Linked DNA regions of Homo sapiens: regions 2, 3 and 4 are each reported to be linked to region 1. The links are microRNA targets in miRTarBase. Many come from high-throughput screens and were not tested one by one. Region 1 holds a microRNA gene; each other region holds the end of a gene's coding sequence.
What was found. Region 1 holds the annotated microRNA hsa-miR-4667-5p (ACUGGGGAGCAGAAGGAGAACC, at 1,992-2,013, shown strand). A microRNA usually pairs through its seed, bases 2 to 8, with sites in the 3' UTR of a target mRNA and lowers its output. Matches are read on the target gene's strand: a 7mer-m8 pairs with bases 2 to 8, a 7mer-A1 pairs with bases 2 to 7 and ends in A, and an 8mer does both.

Region 1 (3,148 bases):
GGTGAGCGGCCCCAGTCTCTGGGCAGCTTGCTGGGCGGGAGAGAAAGGGAAAGATCCCGCGGGAAAAGTGGAACTGAGGAGGAGCTGAGGCCTTTAATAGCCTATCCTTCTATCTTCCCCATCCTCTTGCAGGTTCATGGGAGTCTGTGTGCACCAGGGACAGCTGCACGCTCTTACAGAGGTGAGGATAGGCCAGGAAGGAGGGATCCCCACCCCCCTTCACCCCCAAGGATAAAGGGAGTCAACAGGCCTGGTGGATCTACGGAGGACTAGTGAGAGGCAACAGGATCTCCTCTCAGGGGAGGCTTTCCTGAACTTTCCTTTAGGCAAACCACATATAAAAGGCCTCAACTGGTCTTATTCTCTGTATCCCCTAGAACAGTGCTGTCCAATAGAATTTTCTTCAGTGACGGAAATGTTCTCTATCTGTGCTGTCCAATACAGTAGCCACTAGCCACATGTGGTTAAATTTAAATTATTTTCATTGTTTAGATTATTTTTTGTGGGTCAACTTGATTAAAAAATTTTTTAAATTATTTAAATTGTTGCACATGGCTAATGGCTATTGAGTTGAACGGGGCAATCCTAGAACATGGATGGGGGGGGTCCTACAGCACAGTCTTACCCCTATGACCTCTGTGATCCTCGGGAGTGTCCCCTAGCGTGTAAGTGGGGGACCTAGAATACAGACTGAAGTCTGACATCTATTCCCATTCTCCTCCTATGCACCAGTATATGAATGGGGGGACATTGGAACAGCTGCTCAGCTCCCCTGAACCCCTGTCCTGGCCGGTCAGGCTCCACCTGGCCCTGGACATTGCCCGAGGCCTGCGGTACCTGCACTCCAAAGGTGTATTTCACCGCGACCTCACATCCAAGGTAGGCTAGCAGGGTGGGTGGAGACATGAAAGAGGGTTTGAGGCTATTAGGTTGTAACTGGCCTGTGGATGTTGGAATATGGATAACAGATATATTAGGATGTTGGAGTGGCAAGGCATTGGAGAATATTGGGGGACCAGGGTGAGGGGAGTGCTCGGAGGGACTGAGTAGCACCCTGTGTTTGGAGTGTTGGATGATGTTGCAATATTGAAGTGCCTTGAAAAACTGGGAGAGCAGAGAGGGTTGGAGTTATGCTGGAGTGACAGGGCTTTGGGTTATACATTGGGAGGCCAGACAGCAGAAGGTGATGAGTGCGTGGGGATACTATGTGTGTGTGTGTCAGAACTGTCTAGTCCGACGGGAAGATCGAGGCTTCACCGCTGTCGTGGGTGACTTCGGGCTGGCCGAAAAGATTCCTGTGTATAGGTGAGATGAATGTCCCTGTTCCCCCCAAATCTCCCAGAGTGCCCCTATCTGATGTCCCCAGAGCCCCAGGGATGTTTCCCTTGGGGAACGGAGGGAGTTCACCTCATCCCCTTTTGCCTGGGGGGGATGCCTGAATAGGATGCTTCTGACCACTCTGCCCCTGCCCCTGCAGGGAGGGGGCAAGGAAGGAGCCATTGGCCGTGGTGGGCTCCCCATACTGGATGGCTCCAGAGGTGTTACGGGGTGAGCTGTATGATGAGAAGGTGAGACATCAACCCTTCAGATCCCCAAGGCCTTCCGAGACCCTTGAGGTATTCTCATAAAGCCCCATCCATCCCCAAAACAACCCTACCAGATCTTCAGGAGTCCCCAAGATCCCTTTGCCCCTCACAGGCACCCTTCTAACACATGAAAACTGTCAAGATCCCCCACCCTCAACCAAATTCTGCTATATTCTGTCAAAATTCTGAAATGAAAACTGTTAATTCTTCCCCGACACTATTATCTCTGACCCCCAGGCTGATGTCTTTGCCTTCGGGATTGTCCTCTGTGAGCTCATCGCCCGAGTACCTGCAGACCCTGACTACCTACCACGCACTGAGGTGAATGTTTCTAGGTTTGCAAAGAAAGAATTCCAGACTAGCTGGCTCATAACCAAGGAGGATTCCCTAGAGGTTGAGGTTCTGACTGGGGAGCAGAAGGAGAACCCAAGAAAAGCTGACTTGGAGGTCCCTCCTTCTGTCCCCACAGGACTTTGGCCTGGATGTGCCTGCTTTCCGAACTCTGGTGGGGGATGACTGCCCACTGCCTTTCTTGCTCCTGGCCATCCACTGCTGCAACGTAAGAGCCTCACACTCCTTCCTGCCCCACCCTGCCCCCATCCGTAAGCTGCCATGGCTGCCCTGTGGGACCCAGGTGATGGGAGGAAACTCAGAGACCCTCTTTCGGAGCACTGAGTGAAGCCGTTCCTGTCTCTACCCATCAGCTGGAACCCAGCACCCGTGCCCCCTTCACCGAAATTACCCAGCACCTGGAATGGATCCTGGAGCAGCTGCCTGAGCCAGCCCCACTCACCAGGACCGCCCTGACACACAATCAGGGTAAGGGAGCCTGACCTTGATCCAGCTTGAGTCCTTTGGCCTTTGTCCTCCCTAGAATTCAGAGGTGACATGGGGGAGGCTAAGTATATTTATTAGTTGAAAAGGCTGGGGGTCGGGCTGGGGTAGGGTGGGAGGACATCTCCAAGAAGACAGTTTCCTAATGCTAAAGCTTGAGGGAGAGGAGGGGAAAGAAGTAAAAGGGGCCTGGAGATGACATCACCCCTTTCCAAAGCACCAGGTGGGACTCCCTTTTTCAAGCTCTAGTCCCACCAGCCTCCTGGAGAATAGTGAGGCCCTCAAGGAGCTGTGATCAAATGCTGAGGACAGTGATTCCAGACTTCTCTATCTACAGGCTCTGTTGCAAGAGGGGGTCCCTCTGCCACGCTTCCCAGGCCAGATCCCCGGCTTTCCCGAAGCCGGTCAGACCTCTTCCTGCCCCCATCACCAGAATCACCCCCCAACTGGGGGGACAATCTGACTCGAGTCAACCCCTTCTCACTACGGGAAGACCTCAGGGGTGGCAAGATCAAGCTCTTAGACACACCCAGCAAGCCAGTCCTGCCTCTTGTGCCACCATCACCATTCCCATCCACTCAGCTGCCCTTGGTGACCACTCCGGAGACCCTGGTCCAGCCTGGGACACCTGCCCGCCGCTGCCGCTCACTACCCTCATCCCCCGAGCTCCCCCGCCGTATGGAGACAGCACTGCCAGGTCCTGGCCCTCCCGCTGTGGGCCCCTCGGC
Region 2 (3,000 bases), not on the chromosome of region 1:
GCAACGTACGTCAGACGGCAGTGGTGGAAAAGATCCATGCCAAGGTGAGAGGGACCTGGCCTTCCATTTCTCCAGAGGTCAGAAAAGAGGGAGGCCTGCCCCAGACTGGCAGAGAACTCCTTGATCCCACAATGGGAATAAAACCCCACTTAGGGTGGGTAGCGGCCTGATAGGCCTCTGGAGGGTGGAGAGCCACGGCTGGCAGAGAATGGGACAGAAGGCACTGGCCAGGGGAGTGACCACTTATTTGCTGCAGGACAAACTGCGGACAGGCGAGAAGGCAGTGGTACGTTTCCGCTTCCTGAAACACCCAGAGTACCTGAAGGTGGGCGCCAAACTGCTGTTCCGGGAGGGTGTCACCAAGGGCATCGGCCATGTCACTGATGTACAAGCCATTACAGCAGGAGAAGCCCAGGCCAACATGGGCTTCTGAACCCTTCAGGCAGGGACAGTTCTATTGCTGTCCCTACAATATATAAGGTGACTTCTGGCCATGCTGCCCTGCCATTGGCGGCTCTGTGTGTTAATAGGCTAGGGAGAGAGGGGTGCTGTCTGCCACTTGCTCCCTGCCAACTTTCTGGAGAGGTGCCAAACTTGGTGTGGCCAGGAAAGGGCAGTCCTGAGGGAGAAGACAGGATTCAGGGCAGTGCTCCGAAGCTGTGTGCTCACCTGGTTGGCTCATCAAACCTGGCAACCCTGTGGCCTGTCTGCCGGAGCTGACTGGATCCACTCATCAATTCTTCGTCCCCACTACTAAGACTGGGCATGTTTTGCTGGTGTGGTCTCTGCACTTCAGGAATGGTCACAACAGGGGGTAGCCCTCAAAAGCACTCCTTTTTCTATACCTCTTCTCAAGGCCATGTAAGTTGCCCATCTCTACCTGGCTGTGGACAAAAGGTTATCTGCTCTTGGCCATCTGGTGGTGGTGGCGGCCCAGAGTCTGAAGAAATGGCACAGGGACAGTGAATGGTAGTGTTGCCACCCTGTGCTGAGGCCTGAGGCCTCTTCCTCAGCTTTATCTCCCTTTCCTTCACTCAAGGGCCATTTCCCCAGTCCCTATCTCCCCCATCCCCTCCCGGCTTATAGGCCCCACAGGTGCTATTTGTTGTGCTGGCCCAGGCGTGGGGCTACCAAGCAAAGGCTTGGCATATACCAAAGGCCAGCTGCATGCCCATCAGTCTGGTCTTTTTCCTCTGCGGTCATGTTGGCTTTCATGCTGGATCAAATGTTTTACTTTCCCAGACTGGTGGCATCTGAGTTCCCCATCCTACCACTCTCACCCCACTTTCCTGCCCCACCTAAACCCTCGTTTTAGTAATTTGTAGTGACTGTTCCCTTCCCTCTGTTGCAGGGAACCAGGAGGAAAGGGAAAGATGTTGCCATATTTCCTACTCTTTAGGCATGGACTCTCCTTTCCCTTTGTTAGTGTCCTGGGTTCCCATGGACTCAGGGATTTGTTGGCTAAGGTTTCTCTGTGCATATATATATATATACATATGTATATATATTTAAATACACATATATATTGTACAGAATAAAAATGTTTTATTGAATACACTGTGCTTATGCGTTAGCTACAGGCTCAGCTTCCTTCCAGGGCTAGATACCTCTTCAGGATTAGAGACAAGTGAAACCCCAACACTGCTGAGCCCTGAATGTGGAAAGAGCCCAGCTGGTATCTCGTTCACCATTGTTTTTCTCTCCTCCACATAGGTTCAGAGTTCCAGTATTGTAACCAAGTATTGTGGCCTATTTTCCGTAGTTCAAGTGAGCAGAATACTGAGGCCTTTCACGTGAAATAGGTAGCTACCCTGTATTTGAAGAGTTGGCCACTTGCTAGTGGTCAGAATAGTAAGGAGCCCACTTCTGTGCCCTGGCAGAGATACAGTGCCAGCTACTTAAAGAAGAGTAGAATTTAGAGACAAAAGGTAATCTGGTCCCATATTTTTCAAGTTTACATAGCCTAAATTACTCTTGGAACAATGAGGGCCACTTGACCAAACCTTAGTCCCTGCTCCTGTTTCCATGTTCATACTACTTGATTTTGACATTTTATGGGTAAATAGGGGCCAAAGTCAACTGTAAATAGAAACTGCATTTTGAGGAGACCCTGGAAAAGAAATATGTGACCCAAAGTCCTATGTGGCATTCTGCCTCTAGAGTATTAAAGTGATAGCTTCCCTACCACTCAGGCTGTTTTATAAAATGTAACTGGTTTAACTTGCTACTAACAAGCCTGTAGTTGAACAACTTCCTCCTGTATTAGGGGCTAAGCTGTTTACTTCCTCTCTATAGCTGCTGATAGAGATGAAAGCTTTGTCCACAATTTACTTATCTTTTGCCTGTATTGTAAAGAAAATTTTGGAAAATCACATTTCAGTACTTAATAAGACATCTCCAGGAACTAGTGAGCCTCTCTGCAACATTAATGGAACATTTAGGGGGATAAAAAGTATATAAGGCAGACTCCCAAGGAGTTTATACATGTTTATGATCCCAATTGTGGTAATCAGATCTAAAATTCTTCACTATATACATTCATCCAATGAGTATCAGCACCTATCATGTGCAAAGCACTATGAAGAATCTTTGCCTTTAAGAAGCTACATAGCTAGTTAGGGGGAAAAGGCCACGTATACAGTGAATGTAGTCTTTTTTTTTTTTTTTTTTTTTTTTTTTTTTGAGACAGGGTCTCAGACTGTCACCCAGGCTGGAGTGCAGCGGCACAATCATGGCTTATTGCAGCCCCAAACTCCCAGATTCAGGTGATCCTCCCAACCTCAGCCTCCTGAGTAGGTACGACTACAGGCATAAGCCACCATCTTTGTATTTTTTGTAAAGACTGTTTTGCCATGTGGCTTAGGCCGGTTTTGAACTCCAGGGCTCCAGTAGTCCACCCACCTCAGCCTCCCAAAGTGTTAGGATTACAAGCATCAGCCACCGTGACTGGCTAAATATTGTCTTTTATTAGATATTCAAGTATCATAAAAGCAGAAAATA
Region 3 (3,000 bases), not on the chromosome of region 1:
CCTGACCTCAGGTGATCCACCCGCCTGAGCCTCCCAAAGTGCTGGGATTACAGGCATGAGCCACCGCGCCCGGCCCACTCTGCCATTGTCTAAGCCACCTCTGAAAGCAGGTTTTAACAAAAGGATGAGGCCAGAACTCTTCCAGAACCATCACCTTTGGGAACCTGCTGTGAGAGTGCTGAGGTACCAGAAGTGTGAGAACGAGGGGGCGTGCTGGGATCTTTCTCTCTGACTATACTTAGTTTGAAATGGTGCAGGCTTAGTCTTAAGCCTCCAAAGGCCTGGATTTGAGCAGCTTTAGAAATGCAGGTTCTAGGGCTTCTCCCAGCCTTCAGAAGCCAACTAACTCTGCAGATGGGGCTAGGACTGTGGGCTTTTAGCAGCCCACAGGTGATCCTAACATATCAGGCCATGGACTCAGGACCTGCCCGGTGATGCTGTTGATTTCTCAAAGGTCTTCCAAAACTCAACAGAGCCAGAAGTAGCCGCCCGCTCAGCGGCTCAGGTGCCAGCTCTGTTCTGATTCACCAGGGGTCCGTCAGTAGTCATTGCCACCCGCGGGGCACCTCCCTGGCCACACGCCTGTTCCCAGCAAGTGCTGAAACTCACTAGACCGTCTGCCTGTTTCGAAATGGGGAAAGCCGTGCGTGCGCGTTATTTATTTAAGTGCGCCTGTGTGCGCGGGTGTGGGAGCACACTTTGCAAAGCCACAGCGTTTCTGGTTTTGGGTGTACAGTCTTGTGTGCCTGGCGAGAAGAATATTTTCTATTTTTTTAAGTCATTTCATGTTTCTGTCTGGGGAAGGCAAGTTAGTTAAGTATCACTGATGTGGGTTGAGACCAGCACTCTGTGAAACCTTGAAATGAGAAGTAAAGGCAGATGAAAAGAAAGAAAAAGCCTTTTTATGTTCTTTTATGTTCTCGGCTCAAAAAGAAACAAGGGAGTGTAGGTTTAAAACCAAAACAGGAGAGAAGACAAACCCCGCTCCGGCTGGAGTTAGTTAGAACCAGAACTTTATTGTAGCGGATACACTTTCTGACCTATCATGAGTATACACATCTGCGAAGGGAAACCGCGCGGCGACAGCGTGAGGACATCCCCTGGGCGTGAGCGTCTGTCCGCTGTCTAAACAGAGCAGCTACAGGGACGGGACATGGAGGATGGCCACACATAGCACAGCCACCAGTGTCCTCAGAACTAGCAGTCAGGGTCACAGAACAGTATTCAAAATGATTGCCCACCTGTTTTAGAAATCTAAAATTTTACATGTAACTAAGAGCAAAGTGCTATGTGGGTTTTAGACCATGACTGTTTGTTTGCTCTCCTGCCCTACCACCAAGCAAAGCAGCAGGGCTCCTGGGGGAGAGGGATTTCAACCCCCCTGATGGCAGGGGGTGCTCTGGGGAGGAGAGAGGAGAGAACAGGCTGTTTTGGAAAATTCCAGCACTTTGACTTCGGGCCATGCGTCTCTCCTGGACGTTCTGAGTACGGATCGCTCAGGCCTCCTGCCGTCTCCAAAAGGAGTGGTCAGCCGGTCTGCAGGACACCTCTCAGTTTCTCCTTTTACCAGCAGGAAAATGTACATTTAAGCATAAACCACAAGGCTGCACACGGTGAGACCAGGCCACTGCCCAGGGAGCTGCTGTCGGAGGAGGAGTGTGGAAAAGGGGCCAGGGACCCCGCACCCCACACCAAATTAGGAACAGGTAGAATCCCAAAGGCAAGGCCCGGCCACTTGTAGCTACCCTGATCCAGTCTCTTGAGCAGCACAGCTAGAGGCCTGTGGCCCCCGACTCCCAGCCATACTCAGACCTGAGCAGGGGCTGGGGCGGGGCTGGGCGGGGTGGGCCTCTCCCTCTGGGGTCTGGGGAGGGAGGACCCGGCGGGAAGAGCCCGTGCTCAGAGCTCCGAACTTCACTTTACATTCCAGTCCCGGGTTACACTAGCACAAAGGACACAAGGAATCCGATTTATTTACAAAATATTAAAAAGTCAGTTAATCATCTACACAGTACCCCCCATCCTGCCATTATTTATACATGCACTAGTTTGGAAAAAATAAAAACTTTTTTTAAAAAAAGAAAAAAATGATTACCGGGTGGGAGTGAGCATGTTTTACCCTTTGTCAACGAGCCCAGCTGGCATGGCTTTTCTGGAGTGCGAGGGGCCAGTGTCCTCTCCCCGGGGGGAGACTCCAGACACAAACGCGGGGCCTGAGGCGCTGGGAGGCCCCTGTGCGAGCCGGATGGCGGCCAGAGAGGACGTGTCAGCTCCTCGTGGGACTGAAGAGCGCGACCAGGCAGAGGGTGGGCGGGGAGCCTAGGGTCCTACACACCAAGCACAGCGACGATCGTGGCGGGGAGGGGTCTGCACACCTACTGGCCGAAATGACTTTGTACATCGTGGACCCTTGGGACTGGGAGAACGGATGGCAGCAGAGTCTTCGAAAGCAGAAACCGAGGTGGCCGGGGGCACGGGTCAGTAGCTGAGGGTGGAGTCATCCCACTCCAGCTGCTGCTGCCGGGTTGCGTTCTGGGGGTCGCCCTGCTCCCCCTCCTCCTCCTCGCTGCTCTCCGACTCGGCGCTGGTGATGTCATCCTCTTCTTCGCCGTCCTCGCTTTCCTCTTCCTCTTCCTCTTCCTCCTCCTCCTCACTGCTGTGCTGGTCCTCATAGGTCTGGCAAGGAGAAGTGACGGCCACATGAGTCCGGCCCTGCCCACAGCCCCGTCACCTGGCATTCTCCTCTCGACAGCCACAGAGGAAGGAGAACTTGCCCCAGCGTCTCCCTCCCCAGCGACAGAGCAGCCAGGACGGCACCGGAAGTTATATTAGAAGTGAAGGGAAAACAAAGCTCCAGTCAGCACCCACGGAGTCACCCACATACAAAGCAGCTTGGGACAGCACCTCAGCTGCCCCACCAGAGAACTCTCTCAGGATTACCATGACCCAAGAGCGCCAAGCCCTGGCATGGCTCTTCTCTACACTTAAGGCAGAACGGCC
Region 4 (3,000 bases), not on the chromosome of region 1:
AGGCTGAGGGAGGACCCTTTAAAGATGGAGAGACCCTTGAAGGCAGCGATGCCGAGGAGAGCCTGGATAAGACTGCAGAGTCCTCCCTCTTAGAAGACGAAATAGCACAGGGTGAAGAGCTAGACTCACTTGATGGGGGGGATGAAATAGAAAACAATGAAAATGATGAATAACCAGTACCAGTTCCAGTTCAAGTGTTTAAAACTTTTGACAAGTGGTAGTCCTACTGTTTACACTCACAGTTAATGTTCATACCTAGTTTTATAAGCTGTTCTGTAACATAGTGTAGCAAAAAAAAAAGTTCAAGTCATGTTATACAGGTGTGTCAAAAGGTATCTTGGTCATTAAGTATTGTGCAGTGCATTATTTATTATCCCTAGGAGAGATGAAATTTGAGAGGTGATCATGTCTTTTTAAGGAAACTTACATAATGCTCTGCTTTTTTTTTTTCTCTTGGTACCATTGGTATTATAATAAAGAGCAATTTGTAACTGAGTGGCACTAATGGAAGAAAGTGCTGCTCAAAGGAAGTATGAAGTTATATATTTAATTTTTTAATTTTAATTTTTAATTTTTTTGCTGTGAAGGTCAAGCTGAAATTTACCATACATATCATACTTGCTCATTTGTTTCCCTTTTTGACTGTATGGGGGTTCCCACACTCGTGCATACACACACATCCATACACTCTGACAATCTCCACGCTAGTGTGAACGCCTCTGTCCCGAGGCGCAGCAATAATAAGGCAGCTGTTGAATGTGAAGGGTCCCTTTGGAAAATTAACCTACTGGGAGGGTTCTTGCCAGACAGAACTACAGTTCCATTGTCTCGTGGTCTTGTAATGCACTGGTAAAAACAAAATAAATAGATGAATAAATAAAGAGTGAGAGAAGAGAGAATCAGGTACCTTTTTTAAATTAAAGGACTTTGTTACTTTAGCCACAAAGCTAAAACAGCATTACCTCAGCTCTAAACTAGCCTTGAAGTTTACAGACATGACTTTGTAAATGTATTGTTTTTCTTTGTTGTGATGTCCTTTTATTTTTTTCTTTGAAAACTGCTATCATGTAAGATAAAATGTAAATTGCTGCCAACTGTAGTAATGATGCTTTTAATAAAAGTGACCCATGATATGCAGAGATGTAATTATAGAATGTAGTATATAGGGAAACTGGTGTTCACTCTATTTTTTTTGTATTCGCAATAGATGCAAATACAGCATTCTGGCTTTTGTACAGTTTCTTGATATATCCTCTTATACTAGATTAGCTTTTGGTAAGACACTAAACTGTCTCGAAGACTAGACAGGAAGGAAAACCTTGAATTACTCTCACATAATTCCACTCCAGATATCTCAACAGAAATGCATACAAAAAGCTCCTATTACTCCCTCAAAAGGGCATCTGAGACCGAGAATACTTAGAAATGTGTGCAGCGTGTGATAATGTGGTACACTGAAGAACAAAAGGGCAAAAGAAAAATGAGGCTTTAACAGGCACAATATCTAGGTCATTTATCCTTGGTTAATGGGTAGAAAAACACAATGCGGTAGTGTCAGCAAGGGACACAAAGGCACTCTGGTGTCCTGCAGACCAGCGCTCGATGCCAGAAACCAGTGTGTGGAAAAACCCATGTGGAATTGAAACAGACCCACTTAAGCACGCACGCGCGCACGCACGGTCTCAGGAGCTACTGATTTGTGGACCCCTTTTTGACCTTTGGTATTTAAAGTAAAATATAATTTGAGATCTACTGTTTTCACCTTTTTATGTCACCTGAACCAACACAAAGCCATATTTCCATCCAGTTAAAAAGCAGGGGAAGGGATGTGGACGAGAGTGTTTCGTGTGTGTTGCCTTCCTCCACACCCTTCCCCCAGGACGTCCGCACACAGTCCACCTCCAGCCAGTGTGCTGCCAGACAGGTGGTCTAAATTCCTCCCAGACTGTGAGATTCAGTTCGTTTATGCCCCAAGATGAAAATATGCCCCTTAATGATTCTGGGAAAGAAACAACCTGAACCCTCCACCTTACAGATCCTGTGATTGCTTTTATTTATCATCGTCGTTGTCTGCTGAAAGTGAATGGGCCGTGCACACTGGAGGAAAGTGCCTTGAAGAGAATATTTTTTGAAAGGGAATTATTTGAACACGGGAAAGTGAAACTAGGTCTGCATGAAGTATAGGAAATTTAAGTATTTAAGTAACAAAGATGTTAGCAGGGAGAATTTGCTTAATAAAATGAGTCATTAAAGGGTGTTTTTTTTAAAGTTCTTTGTAGTATTGGAAATTTTCCTATGAGCCTCTGTAAATAGAGAATATAATGTGACACTGTTAGGATAAAATTCTAAGAGCAATGATGATCTTCAAAGCAAAGCCATCAGTTGCTCGTGGCCAGAGGACCCCTGAGTTGTTGGGGCTCACTGGCTTGTTATGTGCATCATCCGGTACTCATCTGTTGACGTGGCTTTAATGTCATTCACATTTTCATATTGAAAAATGCATTTTTTTTCTTCCAGTGAAATTCATTCTTGGTAGTAGATCTTGAATCTACCTAAGTATTTTATTTTCTTTCTTTCTTTCTTTCTTTTTTTTTTTGTTGTTGTTGTTGAGACGGAGTCTCGCTGTCTCCCAGGCTGGAGTGTAGTGGCACAATCTCAGCTCACTGCAAGCCCCGCCTCCCACTTTCACGCCATTCTCCTGCCTCAGCTTCCTTAGTAGCTGGGACTACAGGCGCCTGCCACCACGCCCAGCTAATTTTTTTTGTATTTTTAGTAGAGACGGGGTTTCATCGTGTTAGCCAGGATGGTCTTGATCTCCTGATGCTTGTGATCCACCTGCCTCTGCCTCTGCCTCCCAAAATGCTGGGATTACAGGCGTGAGTAAAGTATTTTCAATTCAGTCAGATACTAATGGGTATGATCGTGTGCCTAGCATGGAGGAAGCACTGAGGTGCCAAGGGTTCTCCTGGCATTGCTCCCTGATGGAAGTTCTGTTCTTCC

Region 2: the mRNA of GTPBP2 is a reported target of hsa-miR-4667-5p. Seed matches in the 3' UTR shown: 7mer-m8 at 1,047-1,053.
Region 3: the mRNA of CLSTN1 is a reported target of hsa-miR-4667-5p. Seed matches in the 3' UTR shown: 8mer at 1,864-1,871, 7mer-A1 at 1,857-1,863 and 8mer at 1,399-1,406.
Region 4: miRTarBase lists CHD7 as a target of hsa-miR-4667-5p. The part of its 3' UTR that is shown has no 7-base or 8-base seed match.

The regions. Positions count from the first base shown.
Region 1 is chr9:35,606,105-35,609,252 of GRCh38, forward strand. It overlaps MIR4667 (microRNA 4667), which reads left to right and starts at 1,990; the gene lies at 1,990-2,055. TESK1 (testis associated actin remodelling kinase 1) reads left to right here. Exons shown (of 10, transcript NM_006285.3): 2 at 1; 3 at 133-181; 4 at 733-879; 5 at 1,223-1,305; 6 at 1,478-1,568; 7 at 1,824-1,907; 8 at 2,056-2,145; 9 at 2,291-2,405; 10 at 2,758-3,148. RefSeq lists a silencer at 1-23.
Region 2 is chr6:43,619,047-43,622,046 of GRCh38, reverse strand. It overlaps GTPBP2 (GTP binding protein 2), which reads left to right. Exons shown (of 12, transcript NM_019096.5): 11 at 1-44; 12 at 257-1,553. The coding sequence ends at 433. It overlaps POLH (DNA polymerase eta), which reads right to left. Exons shown (of 11, transcript NM_006502.3): 11 at 1,524-3,000. Among named protein-coding and RNA genes, the nearest start is that of GTPBP2, 8.7 kb to the left of the region's middle.
Region 3 is chr1:9,728,030-9,731,029 of GRCh38, forward strand. CLSTN1 (calsyntenin 1) reads right to left here. Exons shown (of 19, transcript NM_001009566.3): 19 at 897-2,676. The coding sequence ends at 2,479. PIK3CD (phosphatidylinositol-4,5-bisphosphate 3-kinase catalytic subunit delta) reads left to right here. Exons shown (of 24, transcript NM_005026.5): 24 at 1-1,085. Among named protein-coding and RNA genes, the nearest start is that of PIK3CD-AS2, 42 kb to the left of the region's middle.
Region 4 is chr8:60,865,761-60,868,760 of GRCh38, forward strand. CHD7 (chromodomain helicase DNA binding protein 7) reads left to right here. Exons shown (of 38, transcript NM_017780.4): 38 at 1-2,268. The coding sequence ends at 173. Among named protein-coding and RNA genes, the nearest start is that of CHD7, 190 kb to the left of the region's middle.